Regions from separate parts of the Homo sapiens genome. Here regions 1 and 3 are each linked to region 2. The links come from fine-mapping of genetic effects on gene expression. A gene starts in region 2. Each other region holds a variant in brackets. All regions are shown on one strand. Distances are between the middles of the regions.

Region 1 (5,227 bases), 29 kb before region 2:
GATAATTTAAATTACAGCCATACTATCTCCCAATCCCTCTTCCCAACCGCCAATATTTTTTCAATTGATTAGATTATTGATATCTAATTCATTTATATCAATTGAATCCTACAGAATAAAGTCTTAGACAATGAAGGTATGAGCTAAATTACTGGGTAAATTATTTCTAATGATTTATAATTAATGATGATGCTAAGCTTTTATTGCTGTATGTATTTTTCTTAAAGGAAGCTATATTGGAAGAACAGGAGAAAAAGAAAAGCAAAAACCTGTAGGTATTATTACTCCCCATGCTGAATTCATTGATAAGTTTTATTTTTAGTTTGGTACAAAAACTACCAGATCATCTATATCTTATTTTCATAATTGTCAGGCAGCTCTTCTTTCTTCCTTTCTCATAATGTGATCTGAGGGAACTGAATGATTTTTTCCTTAGCAATATTTAGGACGACTTCCTCCTTCCATAGATCCTGTAACAAGGGTCACAGGGTCTGAAATTGACCAGTTTCTTATTTCTTACTCTTTTACTTAGATAATAAAAGAGGTATTTTGAGCACCAACTTATGCTGTTAAGACTAGTTTTATTTAGAAACTAGTCATAAGACACAAATATTATCCAGTTGGTGTTCACAAGCCTTTCAAGATGATTTCCTAGGTTCAAGATTCTTCTCAAGATCTTGAGAGCTATGCTGGTGAGGGTGAAGCCCTTCAAACAGAGAACTAATGAAAGGGAAAGCCATTCCCAGGGAAGGGCAATGGCCCTGACCTCATGAAGACAGGTAGGTCTGTTCATCCCACATCCTTACTGGTTATTTAGCCCTCATGATTAGTTTCCACAGTGCAGAAAGCCCATTCGGAGGACTTGTACAAAAGGACATGGGGAATTAAGGAAACACACCCAGCCTCTGGAATAATGAGGGAGCTTAGGGAGTGGGGGAGGAGTTGGAAAGGGCTGTCCATAGGGAGTCAGAAGACATGGATTCTAGTCCTCTCTGTCATTAATGTCGATAACCTGGGAAATGCTCCTGAACTTCATGAACCTGAAGTTCCTCACCTATAAAAGTATGGGATTCTGCCATCTGATTCTTTTTCTGTAGCTCTCCTCCACCAGAGTTGATAATAATAATAACAACATACTGTGCCATGTTGTTATTTTTACCAAGCAAAGTGACATTTATCTTCTCATTTGGGAATGTTTCCTCATTGTGCAAATCAAGGGCCAAAACATGTGTAGAGGGAAGAGTTGTGATCTGCCCAAGGTCCCCAGTGGGTAGAAATTTCATGGAGAAGATAGTATACCTTGGGTGCCCCTTCAAATCCTCTTGGCCATACTTTTCTCCAGCCCTTGCTACTGGGCAGGACTGTGCAGGCCACCACCAGCTGCACACATGTACCCCTTGCTCGTACCCGCTGTTTGGTGCCCCAGGGATCTTCTGAGGCTGCTGCATAGGGAACCCACAAGATCCCAGTCAACACACATGCACGTGCAACCAAGAGGCTGGGTGCAATGCTGGGAGTGAATGCTCATGGAGCTACCCTGAACCGCTGGGAATAGAAGAAATGCTTTCCTATTTCACACTGGGCAAACAGTTCTGTCAGGCATTTCATAAGCCCCTCAGAAGGCCCTGCATTTGCCTCTAGCTGCTGCCAACCCCATTGCATATCCTTGTACTGATGGCCCCTCTCTCCTGCTCCACTCCAGGACCTCCACTCCTGCTTTCTGGGATCAACCTCCACTCCTGCTTTCTGAGATCACTTCCCAAATAAACTATCTGCAAAAAGGACTGGGATTCCAGGCCTTAGCCAGGCTAAGACAAGCTCCAAAGTTGGCAGAAGAAGGTGCCTTCAAAATAGGCCAATTGAAGTCAGACAGGGAGTTGTCCTCCAGTGTTAGAAAAAAATGGATATGTTTCAGTTAAAACCAGAAACATGTATGTAAGTACTAGAATCATTACTGATTCACACACCTGCCCTCACTATCAGAGGCATATGAGAAGTGAGACCAAATTAGGAAAGAGATGAGCCCTGTGTCTCCCATCTCATGGGCAATTAGTTGCTCCTTTATTTACTTATTCATCTAGCAAATATTTATGAAGCATCCATATATGCTAAGCCTGTTTTAAGAGCTGAAGATAACAGCATTGAAAAAGGCTAAAAAGCTTAGAGCTTACTTCTAAAGAGAAAAGACAATTAAGAAACTACCAAAGGAATAGTCAGATGTTGCATAGTGACAGGATCACATTCCAAGAAATGTGTCTTTACACAATGTTGTCCTTGTGTGAACATCATAGCATGTACTTACACAGAGCTAGATGGTATAGCCTACTACACACCTAGGCTATATAGTATAGCCAATTGCTCCTAGGCTACAAACCTGAACAGCATGCTACTTGTATTAAATACCGTAGGCAATTGTAACACAATGGTATTTGTGTATCTAAACATATCTAGACATAGAAAGGTACAATAAAAATGTGGTATAAAAGATTAAAAAATGGTACACCTGTATAGGGAACTTACCATGAATTAGCTTACAGGACTGGAAGTTGCTCTGAGTGAGTCAATGAATGAGTGATTAGTGAATGTGAAGGCCCAGGACACAACTGCATACTAGCGTAGACTTTATAAACACTGTACATTTAGGCCTCACTATATTTATTTCTTAAAGTTTCTTTAATAATAAATTAATCTTAGTTTACTGTCACTTGTTTATGAACTTTTAAATTTTAAAAAACTGTTTGACTCTTGTAATACTTAAAACACAATCACATTGTACAGCTGTACAAAAA[CAG/G]TTTTTCTTTATATCCTTATTCTATAAGCTTTATTTTTAATTTTTTTAACTTTTTACACTTTTTTTGTTAAAAACTAAGACCAGGCCGGATGTGGTGGCACACACCTGTAATCCCAGCACTTTGGGAGGCCGAGGCGGGCAGATCACCTGAGGTCAGGAGTTTTGAGACAAGCCTGATCAACATGGGAAAACCCAGTCTCTACTAAAAATACAAAAATTAGCCAGGTGTGGTGGCAAATGCCTGTAAATCCCAGCTACTCAGGAGGCTGAGGCAGGAGAATCGCTTGAACCCAGGAGGCAGAGGTCGCAGTGAGCCGAGATTGTGCTATTGCACTCCAGCCTGGGCAACAAGAGCAAAATGCCATCTCAAACAAACAAACAAACAAAAAACAAACAAACAAAAGACTAACACACACATTAGCCTAGGCCTGCACGGAGTCAGGATAATCAATATCACTGCCTTCCACCTCCACATCTTGTCCCACTGGAAGGTCTTCGGGGCCATAACACGCACGGAGGTGTCATCTCTTATGGTAACAGTGCCTTACCCTGGATGCCTCCTGAAGGACCTGCCTGAGGCTGTTTTACAGTTAACATTTTGTTTTAAATAAGTAGAAGTATACCCTAAAATAATGATTTAAAAAATATAGTAAATACATAAGCCAGTAACAGTCATTTAATTCATTATCAAATATGTACTGTACATAATTGTATGTACTATACTTTTATACAACTGGCAGTGCAGTAGGCTTGTTTACACCAGCATCACCACAAATGTGAGTGCAATGCATCATGCTACAATGTCCTAGGCCATAGGAATTTTTCAGCTCCAATATAATCTTATGGAACCACTGTCATATATGCAGTCCGTCATTGACCAAAATGCCATTATGCGGCACATGACTGTACAATGTCAGATTCATTATATGGGATGACAGGCAGAATCATGTGTCCTCCCTTCCTCTCTTCCTCCCTGCCTTCCTTCCTCCCTCCCTCTGCTGAACACATTTACTTGAATTCCTATATCTTTAATGTGCATACCACAAGACTCCAATTTCAAGTAGTGAAGCTAGAACTGAACCCCAAATACTCTGACTCTAAAACAAGAGGCGTTTATTTGTTCGTCTGTTTGTTTCAAACCCCACTGATGCAGGCTGGTTGAATTTATGACTGGTCGTTGATCTCTTAGAAAATGAGGAATTCTAGGGTGCTGGGTGGGGTGGGCTGGAAGTGCATTGATGCTTCAGGGCAGAGAATCCTCTTGGCAATGGATGTGTTCCAGTCCCCAAGTAGTGTTGTCTTTGCATCGTGGTGCTGTGAGCAGGACCCTGTGTACCGTTCTCATGCCTGTTTCTCTCCCCAGGGCAGTGACCATCTGCCTGAGGATTATTGCCAACATCCTGGTGCTTCTCTCACTGGCTGGGAGCATTTATCTCATCTACTTTGTGGTGGACCGGTCCCAGAAGCTGGAGCAGTCGAAGAAGGAGCTGACACTTTGGGAAAAGAATGAGGTACCCACTGCCATTACCTGCAGCACCCTAGAAAAGAGACATAGCTGGGCACAGTGGCTGATGCCTGTAATCCCAGCACTTTGGGAGGCTGGGGCAGGTGGATCACTTGAGGTCAGGAGTTCCAGCCCAGCCTGGCCAACATGATGAAACCCCATCTCTACCAAAAACACAAAAATTAGCTGGGCGTCGTGGTGCACACCTGTAGTTCCAGCTACTCAGGAGGCTGAGGCAGGAGAATCCTTGAACCCAGGCGACGGAGGCTAGAGTGAGCCAAGATCACGCCACTGCACTCCAGTGTGAGCAACAGCGCGAGACTCTGTCTCAAAAAAAAAAAAAAAAAAAAAAGAGAGAGAGAGAGACACAGAAAAGTAGCCTGCCTCTCTGTTCCTTATGTAAGTTAGGTGGGAATATCTCTAGGAAAAAACTTTAGTCCTCTTGTCCTAGAGCATTGACTATAAGGACTTTGAGCCAGAGGGGCAGCACTAAGGCTTGGCAATTTTATTCATCTCCTTTGGGAAAGAGTTTGATTCAAAAACACCTTCAAGCATTTACACCGTTCTCTACCTTTGAGCCTCACCGACTGTGTTTTGCCTTTTGCACATCTGTTTCTTCACATCCATGTTCCACATTCCTGCAGACTGGAATTAACAACTACACTTATTCCATAGTATGGATTAAAGTTGACCAGGTGTCATTCGTGAATATTTAGGTAGTTTCTGAATATCTAAATGACAAATAATGCTTCCAGAACCAGCTCTACACAAATGGTTTGTTTTTTAAACAATCTTCTCCCCCCCAACCCCCGTTGTGTGAATATTCCCATAAATAGAAAATCACCAAGTGAACGGTTATGAACAATTTTGGAATTCTAAATATTCATTTTAAGACCATTGTCCTGAAAGGTTGGCCCAATTTATCTATACAG
Region 2 (5,227 bases):
CTACATGATCTTCACTTTCTTAACTTGCAAAATGGGAGTAGTAGTCTCTATCTCATGGTGCTGCGGTATTGTTAAGTTAAATGGCCCAAAACAGGTAAAGTGCTTAGGATAGTGGCTAGCAAGAAGTAAGTGCTGAGTAACGATTAGCTATTGCTGAGTAAGCAATAAACATACCGACGTGCTTACATTTGTAGATTCACATAGCACCTGCCCAAGCTAACTTAGTAAATATGCATGCAATTCTTCATCAGTGTCTAAGTGGAAAGCAGATACTCCACTCTATTCAGGGCCTTGTAAGACTGGAGCATGTGGACACTTGGGCCCATCCCCTCTATAGTCTGTCTAGTGGTGGTGTTGAGTTAGAAGCTACTGGGCTACCTGCTCCCATATACACCTATTAATTGTATTCACCTGGGACTTTGATGAAGTCTGGTGGACAACTGGGTGACTCAGAGCCCTCTCAGGACCTTGTGGGAAGGGCTCTGATCAGTGGAATCTCCAGAGCTCAGTCATTCCTCCATCCCCTTCAGCTCCAAACTGCAGCCTCAGACAGACTACAAAATAGATTTCTGTCCCAGGCCCCTGGCAAACACTGTGTGGGCAGCTCTCACCTTCCCTCTGTTCCAATCATCTGCTCACTCTGCCCTGTGCCGGCCTCCGGTGATAAAATAAATGAGTGTTCTGCTTGAAGGCTGCCCTGACCTCACCAATCTCCTACTTCCAGTTTGTCACAGGCCTCGGGGACAGTTTGCTTCTCCAAATATTTTGTATATCCAGACGTTCCCATTTCCTAGGAGCAAAATAGTGCTACTATAGTCCTGCAGGGGGTCTACTCCATCCCCACTTTCCACCATCTGGGCTAGGTTATTTTGATGGCTACATAATATTCCACTAAGTGGATGTTCTATAACTTTGGTTAATATACTGGTAAATAGGTTACTTCCAGTTGCAAGATTAATTTTATGCATCTTTGTGCAGGAAGAGTCACTGGATCAAAGAACAAGTAGAGTAAAATTTTAATATATGTTGTTATTCTGTTCCCAGGAGGTTGCATACATTTGTACTCTCATCCGCTGTGTAACAACTATTTCTCCATACCCTCACCAACACAGGGTATAAACAAACTTCATGTTTGTCCATCAATAGGTTTTAAGAAAAGCCTCTCCTTGCTTTAATTTTTAATTCCCTAACAATGAGTGAGGTTCTGCATCTTTTTATAGCTTTGTTAGCCATGTCAATTAATTTTTCCACAAAGTATCTTTCCATGTCTAATGCATTCTTTTTGTTTATGGGGTTGTCTGAAAATTGCTTAATGATTTGTATGAGCCCTTGGTTCGATAAGAAAACTTATGTGTTAAAGTGTGTCCCGATTTTTTTCTCATATTATCTAACTTTTTATGAAATTTTGATGTGCTTAATTTTTTAATGGGATTAATTTACTAGTCTTTTCTTTTATGGGTCCTAAGAGTATTTACATGCGTTACTTCCCTCTCTCTTCACAAGGGCATAGGGAACATTTATTTGTTTGTTTGTTTATTTTTATTACTTTTTGAGACAGGATCTTGCTCTGCAGCCCAGGCTGGAGTGCAGTGGCGCGATCACGGTTCACTGCTGCCTCTGCCTCCCGGGTTGAAGCGATCCTCCCACCTCAGCCCCCCCAAGTAGCTGGGATTACAGCCCCGCGCCACCATGCCCGGCTAATTTTTGAATTTTTAGTAGAGACGGAGTCTCGCCATGCTGCTCAGGCTGGTCTCGAACTCCTAGGTTCAAGTGATCTCCTGCCTCAGCCTCCCAAAGTGCTGGGATTACAGGCGTGAGCCACCGGACCCCGCCAGGAACATTTATGATGTATCCCATTTCACCTTGGAGTAAACTGAAGCTCAAAGAATAATGAGTGAAACTGGGTTTAGATCTTGAGCTCCCTAATTCCCCATCCAGGTCTTCTTCACAGCCTGGCTGCCCTTCACATCTTCCAAAAAGGTCTTTCAAGTTGTCAATTTGTTTACACTACTCTTCCAAACATTTATATCGAAAGTTTAAAGGAAACAATAAGTACATAAAAAAGAAAGATAAGAAATAGACCTCAGTATTAACCTTTTCAAATATTTAGTTGGTGATAGCGCAGAAGAGGGGAAACCGAGGCTGTCCTTGCCATTCACGCTGTGAAGATGCGACCCTGGCTCACTCCCCGCAGCTCCAGGGCAGCTGGAAGCAGAGAACTCCCATATCTCTAATAAAGCCGGGCCTCTCGCAGATGTCAGCGCATTGCATTGACTCCTGGACACCTGCACTAAAGGCCCTTCAGGCACCTCCAACTAAATATGCCCAGAACTGAACTCACCCTATCTCTTCTCCATCTCAGGTAAGCTGCCAGGTGGCCAAGGCTGGGAGTCATGATGCTTTCTCCTTCTGAACATCCACAATCGGGGGCAGAGACCTTCACCTTCCATCTCCTAAACACTCTACGATGGGTCCTCTTCTCTTCACCCCCACTCCCCGCACCCCTGCCACACACCTCTCCCACCATTGCACGCGCCCAGTCTCCACGCGCATTTCCTCTCCCACCCTGCAGCAGCCGCCCTAGCATATTACCTCTAATGCAAATCGCACCACTGTCCCGCAGGCTGAAAGCCTCGGTGCACTCAGGACAAGAGTCCACGCTTCTTAAACAAACGGTCGACGTTGTCCGCGACCTGGCCCGGCCCAACGGGTCAGACCGTCATTGGCCATCTCACAGTCCCGGCGCTCCAGAGCCCCTCCCACAGCGGGACATGAAGGAGGCGGATACGGCTGGACCTTACCCGGCCCGCCCAAGGCGTCCGGGACCCGCCCAGGCGCTGACGCTAACTGGAGAGCCTGGCCCCGCGGTCTCCTTGTCCTGCCAATCTCCGGGAGGCGGGATCCGTCTGAGGGCCTGGACCAATTCGGGAGCGGGGGCGCGGAAAGAGGCGGGGCTACGAGCTCCTCCCAGAGCTCCAGCCTCCAGGCACCCGGGATCCAGCGCCGCCGCTCATAACACCCGCGACCCCGCAGCTAAGCGCAGCTCCCGACGCAATGGACCCGGCGCTGGCAGCCCAGATGAGCGAGGCTGTGGCCGAGAAGATGCTCCAGTACCGGCGGGACACAGCAGGCTGGAAGATTTGCCGGGAAGGCGTGAGTGAGGAGCTGGGCGGGAAGGGGTCGCGGAGACGGCTTCGTGGAGCCCGGGTCCCCAGAAGCCCCCAAGCGCCTCCTCTCCCCGTTGTTTTCTGCTCCCCAATCCCCTGGACCCGATTGAGAGGGATTCCAATGGGGATTGTTTTCTTCTTTAAAAAAAAGATTGGGCCTGTTATGCTCACAATGACTTCAGGTGGTAAGTATCTGTTCCTTTCACTCAGTGACTTGCCCAAGGTCACCTGGCTGTTGAATGCTGTTTAGGACTGGATGTTTCTGTGACAGTGGTAAAAGTAAATAAATTGCATTTAAGGGGTAAGCAGGTGTTTAAAAACAAAACAAAATGAAAGAATGTGGTCGCAGCTAAGGAGGTTTTTACATGTTGTTTAAATCCAGTAAAGTCTGATCCAGCATCTGATGCATACTAAGGTTTTCTTCTGTGTTCATTACAGCATGAACCCCTCTCTTTGTCGTTGCCAGAGGGTAGCATGGGAGTAGTTTTGCTTGACCCTTCTGACTTTTCATTACAGCATGAACCCCTCTCTTTGTCGTTGCCAGAGGGTAACATGGGAGTAGTTTTGCTTGACCCTTCTGACTTTTCATTACAGCATGAACCCCTCTCTTTGTCGTTGCCAGAGGGTAGCATGGGAGTAGTTTTGCTTGACCCTTCTGACTTTTCATTACAGCATGAACCCCTCTCTTTGTCGTTGCCAGAGGGTAGCATGGGAGTAGTTTTGCTTGACCCTTCTGACTTTTCATTAAGTAGCCCTGGGTTGCTCAAGGAAACAGAATGCCTGGTGGCTTTTAAGATAATTTTAAAAACCACCCACGGCTCTTGGAGTCAGCCAGTTAAGATCTTTTTCTTCATCACATTCTGCTGTGGGGACAGCTTTGCCCAAGACTAGTCCCAGCTTTTCCACGTATGGGTTGCACAGCCTTGGAGAGTCGTATCTCTTGAGGCCTCTTACCCCTCTTCTGTAGAACAGGGGATTAAGCCAGGTGACCAGAGCCCTTCTAGCTCTAAAATTCTGTGGTTCTGTGCCTTTTGACAGAATGGAGTTTCAGTTTCCTGGAGGCCATCTGTGGAGTTTCCAGGGAACCTGTAAGTGCATGCCTCGTTCAAAGATTACCAGAGGTGCCGCACCCTTCCTGGTATCTTTATGGGCCTGCCTCCTAAAATATTCAAATCAACCCTATAACCTGTGATCACTTGTCCTCCAGAAAAGCCTTACTGTTTTTAATGAAATCATTTCCAGCAAACTGTATTCTTGTGAAAGCTTACTGTCCATTTCTGCAGGCCTGAAGGGAGGCGGGGCTAGTGACTTTCAGCCCCTTCTCTGCAAGTCTGTCCTAAAGAGTAGTGACAGACATGGCATGGTCCACCTTCTAGTCCTTAGATACAATCTCAAGATAACAAGTTTGATTGATGCGTTGGGGTCAAATTCCTTTTCGTGCTCCAGGTACCGAGGAGAAGGCATTGTATATGGGACACTAGAGGAGGTGTGGGACTGTGTGAAGCCAGCTGTTGGAGGCCTACGAGTGAAGTGGGATGAGAATGTGACCGGTTTTGAAATTATCCAAAGCATCACTGACGTAAGTCTTTCCAAGCATGTTATCTCTAGATAGTGTCTGGGCCAGGCTATAGTAACCCCCTCCCATTTCTTCTGGAAGGGGTCCGTGATACCTTTTGTTAAGGGGGTGTGTCCTGCAAGCACAGGCTGCCCACTGCTTGCAGCATTGGAGGCCTGCCTCAGCCCAGTTTCCCGGTGGGAAACCTCATGACTCAGAGAGGGAGAGAAGCCCCAAACAGAGTCTCTGCGGGGAGCATACCTGTTCCTTGTGTGGGGCTGCTGCACTAGGCAACACAGGATCCTCAGCCCCTGGCACCCACTTCCCTGAAGCCTGGGCCAGTAGCAGCTCCACGTACCTGCATGACCCCAGTTACCCTCTGGTATGAGGGTCTTCACGCTTTTTGCTTACATGCATCCAACAGATTTTTGAGAAATTATGCATCATCCTCACACATCCAGTTGATGTCTATTAATAACATTTAGTTTACAACTAAATTTTCATA
Region 3 (5,227 bases), 38 kb after region 2:
CAACAACAAAACAACCTGATTAAAAACTGGGCACAGAACCTGAATAGACATTTCTTCAAAGAAGATATACAAACAGCCAAAAAGCAAATGAAAAAATGCTCAACATCACTAATGATTAGGTAAATGCAAATCACAACCACACTGAGTTACCACCTCACACACATTAGGACATTAGGATGGCTACTATAAACAAAAAGAAAAGAGGCTGGGCATGGTAGCTCATGCTTCTAATCCCAGCACTCTGGGAGGCTGAGGCAGGCAGATCACTTGAGGTCAGGAGTTCGAGACCAGGCTGACCAACATGGTGAAAGCCCATCGCTACTAAAAATACAAAAATTAGCCTGTGCAGTGGTACACACCTATAATCCCTGCTACTAGGGAGGCTGAGGTGGGAGAATCACTTGAACCCAGTGCAGTGAGCCAAGATCGTGCCACTGCGCTCGAGCCTGGGTGACAGAGTGAGACTCAGTCTCAAAAAAAGAAAAGAAAATAACAAAGTATTGGCAAGGATATGGAGAAATCGGGACCCTTGGGCTCTGTTGATAAGAATGTAAAATGGTGTAGCCACTGTGGAAAATAGTTTGAAGGCTCCTCAAAAACTTAAAAATAGAATTACCATATGACCCAGCAATTCCACTTCTGGGTATATACCCTAAAAGAAGGGAAGTCAGTATCTCAGAGGAATCTGTACTCCACGTTCATTGTAGCATTATTCACAATAGTCAAAAGGTGGAAACAACCCAAGTACCCAAAAACAGATGATAAACAGCATGTGATACACACACACGCACACACACACACACACACATACACATACTAGAAGATTATTCGACCTTAAAAAGGAAGGAAATTCTGGCCCGTGCTACAACATAAATGAACCTTGAGGACATTACGCGAAGTCAAATAAGGCAGACACAAAAGGACCCATTTTATATGATTCCACTTCGATGAACGTAGAGTAGTCAAAATCACAGAGACAGAAAGTAAAATGGTGGTTCCCAGGATTTGCTGGTAGGAGAACATAGGGACTTGTTTAACTGGTAGAGTTTAAATTCTGAAAGATGGAAAGAGTTCTGGAGACGGATGGTGGCAATGGTTGCACAACAATGAGAATGTCCTTAATGCCACTGAACTGTACACTTAAAAAATGGTTAAGATGGTAAATTTTATGTTATGTGTATTTTACCACAATAAACAACAATAAATAAATCATTTAAAGTCTGCGGCACAATGCCTGGCAGATGGTAAACTCTTACTAGAGGAGAGTTACCATCCACAACAGTCCTGTAAGGTAAAGACCACTCCCCTATGTCAGAGTTGAGGAACCAGAGGCTCTTGGAGGTTAGATGAGTTGCCCAAATTAACCATAAGCAAGCAGCAGACTGGACACATGCCAGGCATTCTGCTGCTGGGCCTGGCTCTCTTCTCTCTGCCCTATGCCTGTGCCCCTGGATCTCCACGGCCTAGGGTGTCTTCGTCTTTCTGCTGCTCTAAACCTTACCTGTCCTTTCTGGCCTGGCTCCCTTATCTGAGCAGCTGGAACTCCAGCTCCCTCACTCTCAAGGCCCTCACCTCTGTGGCCTCTCTGTGTGTGTCCCATGTCTCTGGGAGAATGCACATTCCTTAAGCCCAGGGCTACAGCATTTGCCCACAACCTGACGCCCTACTCCACTGATTTTCTGCCGTAGTCCTAAAAGCAGCAGGAGGAAATGACAAATTAATTGGGACCTCTTTCTTTTCTTGTATTGTCCAGAGATTTAGGCCAATTATTTGTTTGCCTTAATTAAGAAGTTTGCTTGTCTCTGATTGTGTTTAGCTCCAGTGTGCAATCCACAGAATGGGGCTGGGTTTGAATTCCACCACACCATTATATATTGATTTCCCTCATTACTCCACTCTGTCCAAGTGTCACTGGGAGTTTGGGAGTCAGTGAGTTCAAAGCACAGGCTTTGCTGGATTTAAATCTTAGCTTCTTTACTTAGTAGCTTCACCATTGGGAAACTTATTTGTCCTTTCTAAGCCTCAGTTTCCTCATCTGTGAGTTGGGGGGGAAATATCACACTGATTTCAGGAGGCTGCACAACAACTAAATGCAGTTGTGTGGGTCACATCTTTGAAAAACATGCCTGGTGCATATTAAGATTAAATAATTCTTTGTGGTGATTATTCCAGGTTCCCCAGAGCTCTCACCAACAGCAGGGATTCAACCCCCAAGTCTAGCTCCAGCCTGGGTTCCTGTTATAGTTGCTATCAGCCCTAAGTCTAACTTGCCTACTGGGCATCTTTACCTGGACACCCCGTGGTACCTCCACCTCACTATGTCCCACAGTAAGATCATGCTCTTCTCTCCCTCCCAAGCCTGCTACCTTTTCCTCTTCTCTCTTCTGGTGGAAGACCATTGCTCAGTCTTCCAATCTAAAAATATTCGAGATATCTTCGGTTCCTCCCTCTCTTACCCCAGAGCCACTTGCCCAGCAGCTCTTGTTGAGTCTTCCCAAGCATTGCCTCATGTTGCCTGATATGGTTTGTCTGTGTCCCTACCCAAATCTTATCTTGAGTTTTAGCTCCCATAATTCCCACATGTTGTGGGAGGGACCTGGTGGGAGATAATTGAGTCATAGGGGCAGTTTCCCCCATTCTGTTCTCATGA[T/C]AGTGAATAAGTCTCACAAGATCTGACGATTTTATAAGGGGTTTCCCCTTTCACTTGGCTCTTATTCTCTCTTGTCTGCCATCATGTAAGACATGCCTTTCACCTTCTGCTGTGATTGTGAGGCCTCCCCAGCCACATGGAACTGTAAGTCTATTAAATCTCTTTTTCTTTATAAACTACCCAGTCTCAGGTATGTGTCTATCAACAGCGGGAGAACAGACTAATACATTGCCCCTTCTCTTTTCTCTTCTCATGGCTGCTGTGTAGTTCAGGCTCTCACCATCAGCTTCCTTCCTCTTACAAACCCCACACTCCACCCACTCTATCCTGTCTTCTACAGTGCAATCAAAGGTTTAAAAATTAAAATATGAACATGCTCCTTCTACAGCTACAGACCTCCCATAGCTCCTCACTATGTAGAATAAAATGCAAACTCTTTAGTATCCTGTTGAAAGCCCTCTGCAGTGTAACCCCAATGCCCTGCCAACATCTGTTCTCAGTCACTCTTACCTAGTACCCTACATTCCAGCCCCACAGAACCCACTCCTCTCCTTCCATGTCAGGTCCCTTTTTGACTCTGTGACATTGAATTTTGTGTTCCCACCTCCTGGAATGATCTTCCTTATATTCTCTGCCTGGAGAAAACTAACCTCTGGTATTTTTTTACTTTATCAACCATTCCCTGCTATATTCCTGTATTCTCATAGGACTTACCATCTCTGTTTTGCAATTATTTGTATGTCAGGCTCTTTATTGATACTGTGAGCTTCTGCAGGGCAGGACTGTGTGCTATGAACTTGCCTCTGTATCTTCAGTACCTACCTCCAGACATTCCCACAGTGGGTACCTACTAGACGCATAAATGAATAAATTTCTTGGTCTACTAGCTGGGACCCTGGGTCTCTACTTTCCTGCCCCAGAGCTTATAACTCAGCTGTAAGAGCTTCCCTAAGTTAATGTCAATTGCCTCTGATATCTAGGAGTTTGTTAGTGGACCTCTGCTGCAGACAATTCTTACTACAGAAACTTGGAAGGGATTCTTGGGAATTCAGGTACAAACCCAGCCAGCAACATCTCTGTTTTCATCTATTTCTTGTTCCAATTTTGGTACTGAACGAGTGAGCCTGAGAAGAAGAGGATAACCCAGTGGGTGTTACCTGTGGGTCTGGATGTCGGCTAACAATGATGGGGACTGGACCGGGATCACAGTGACTCAGGATCGTGTAGACTTCATTGAGCGTCAGGCAGTGCACAGGGGAATCACTGATTTCCACAATCTCGTCCCCACACCTGTGCAAGCATCAATAAGAAGCCATCAGTAAGTGAATCAATGAGACATTTGAACAGTCACTGCCCCAGGGGCCCACTCCTGGCTGGGCTGTTTGATGAGATATAAAAATCACATGAATAAGTAGACCCCACTAGCCACCAGACCAAAACTCAGAACAGGGCAGACCAAAGTAGCATATCCCATACCCCCTTACCGTACAACCACAAAGCAGCAGACATTTCCTATTTACAGTGGGTCAACATTAACAAAAGTTCATCTGTAACTTTCCTCCTTCTTTTCACATTTAACTATGCCCATTAAAGACTGAGGGTGTGGGTTAGCCAATTCAACTAAATAACAATTAACCAGGATTTAATCCACCACATCCTCTCCTTGGGCCTCTGTGTTCCCATAAGTAGACTAGTTAGAAGGAAGGATTGGATCTAACATAGCACACACAGGATGTTGAATATCGGACCTAACATCCTACATGTGCTAAAAGGCAGAGAAAAAATAACTCAACAGGAGAGCAGTTGAGATTCTTGCAAAAAGAAATAAGGAGAAAAGGTGATGGCATTCATTCTAGTTGTGAGGTGGGAAGGGAGTTAATAGCAACCTAAACCTTAAAAAAAAAAAAGGTAGGAAACACGGGGTCACATAGATACATGGAAGATTTGTATAATCCAGTCCCCTTCCCGACCTAGATAGGGAAATTGAGTTGCAGAGGTTGAATAGATTTCCCTGATCTAGGTCTGCTCAGGAATTGACAAACTTTTTCTGCAAAGGGCCAGAGAGTAAATATTTTTGGTGTTGCATGCTTTGCCATACTGTCTTTATCGAAACTATTCAACTCTGCTGTTATATTAATAGCATGACAGCTGTGGCCATAGACGAGGCATAAACAAATGAGCATGGCTTTGTTCCAATATAATTTTATTAAAACAACAACAACAACAAAACCAAAACAGTGATAGGCCCCAGTTTGCAGACCCCTGGCCTAGTTGGTCATCAGCAGGTCCAGGATTGGAACTCTAGCCTCCTGAGGCTGATTTCCCTGTGTCCCCTGCTGTGTTCTGTGACTTCCTTCTGCTGAGTTCATCCTCCTTCACCCTTGCTTCCTTTTTACTGCTGTAACTGAAGGCCATGGTTGTATAGCACCAGATGCTAAGGAAAGCAGAAGCTTCCAGAACAATCCCTACTCCACTGCAGATCTAAGAAGGAGGTACTCTCTGTCCGAGGGTACTAGGACCAAGACAACCACATGGAACCTGCAGTATGTGCCACAAACCAGCAGAGCAGCTCAGCAA

Evidence for each region. PIP is the estimated chance that this variant, and not a neighbour inherited with it, causes the effect. A credible set is the group of variants that fine-mapping cannot tell apart.
Region 1: its variant is the best candidate, but not a certain one, in a credible set for the expression of STARD5 in skin (TwinsUK, PIP 0.82).
Region 3: its variant is the best candidate, but not a certain one, in a credible set for the expression of STARD5 in monocytes (Quach 2016, PIP 0.52).

What each region holds. Positions count from the first base shown.
Region 1 is chr15:81,350,769-81,355,995 of GRCh38, reverse strand. It overlaps TMC3 (transmembrane channel like 3), which reads left to right. Exons shown (of 22, transcript NM_001080532.3): 9 at 228-271; 10 at 4,155-4,302. All of the region lies in intron 3 of TMC3-AS1 (TMC3 antisense RNA 1), which reads right to left. Among named protein-coding and RNA genes, the nearest start is that of TMC3, 21 kb to the left of the region's middle. The variant CAG/G (reference allele first, on the strand shown) is at 2,790.
Region 2 is chr15:81,321,927-81,327,153 of GRCh38, reverse strand. It overlaps STARD5 (StAR related lipid transfer domain containing 5), which reads left to right and starts at 3,013. Exons shown (of 6, transcript NM_181900.3): 1 at 3,013-3,153; 2 at 4,206-4,255; 3 at 4,614-4,746. The coding sequence starts at 3,055. TMC3-AS1 (TMC3 antisense RNA 1) reads right to left here and starts at 2,821. Exons shown (of 7, transcript NR_120365.1): 1 at 2,593-2,821. RefSeq lists a silencer at 2,472-2,521.
Region 3 is chr15:81,284,411-81,289,637 of GRCh38, reverse strand. IL16 (interleukin 16) reads right to left here. Exons shown (of 19, transcript NM_172217.5): 10 at 3,808-3,940. Among named protein-coding and RNA genes, the nearest start is that of STARD5, 37 kb to the left of the region's middle. RefSeq lists an enhancer at 2,781-2,860. The variant T/C (reference allele first, on the strand shown) is at 2,651.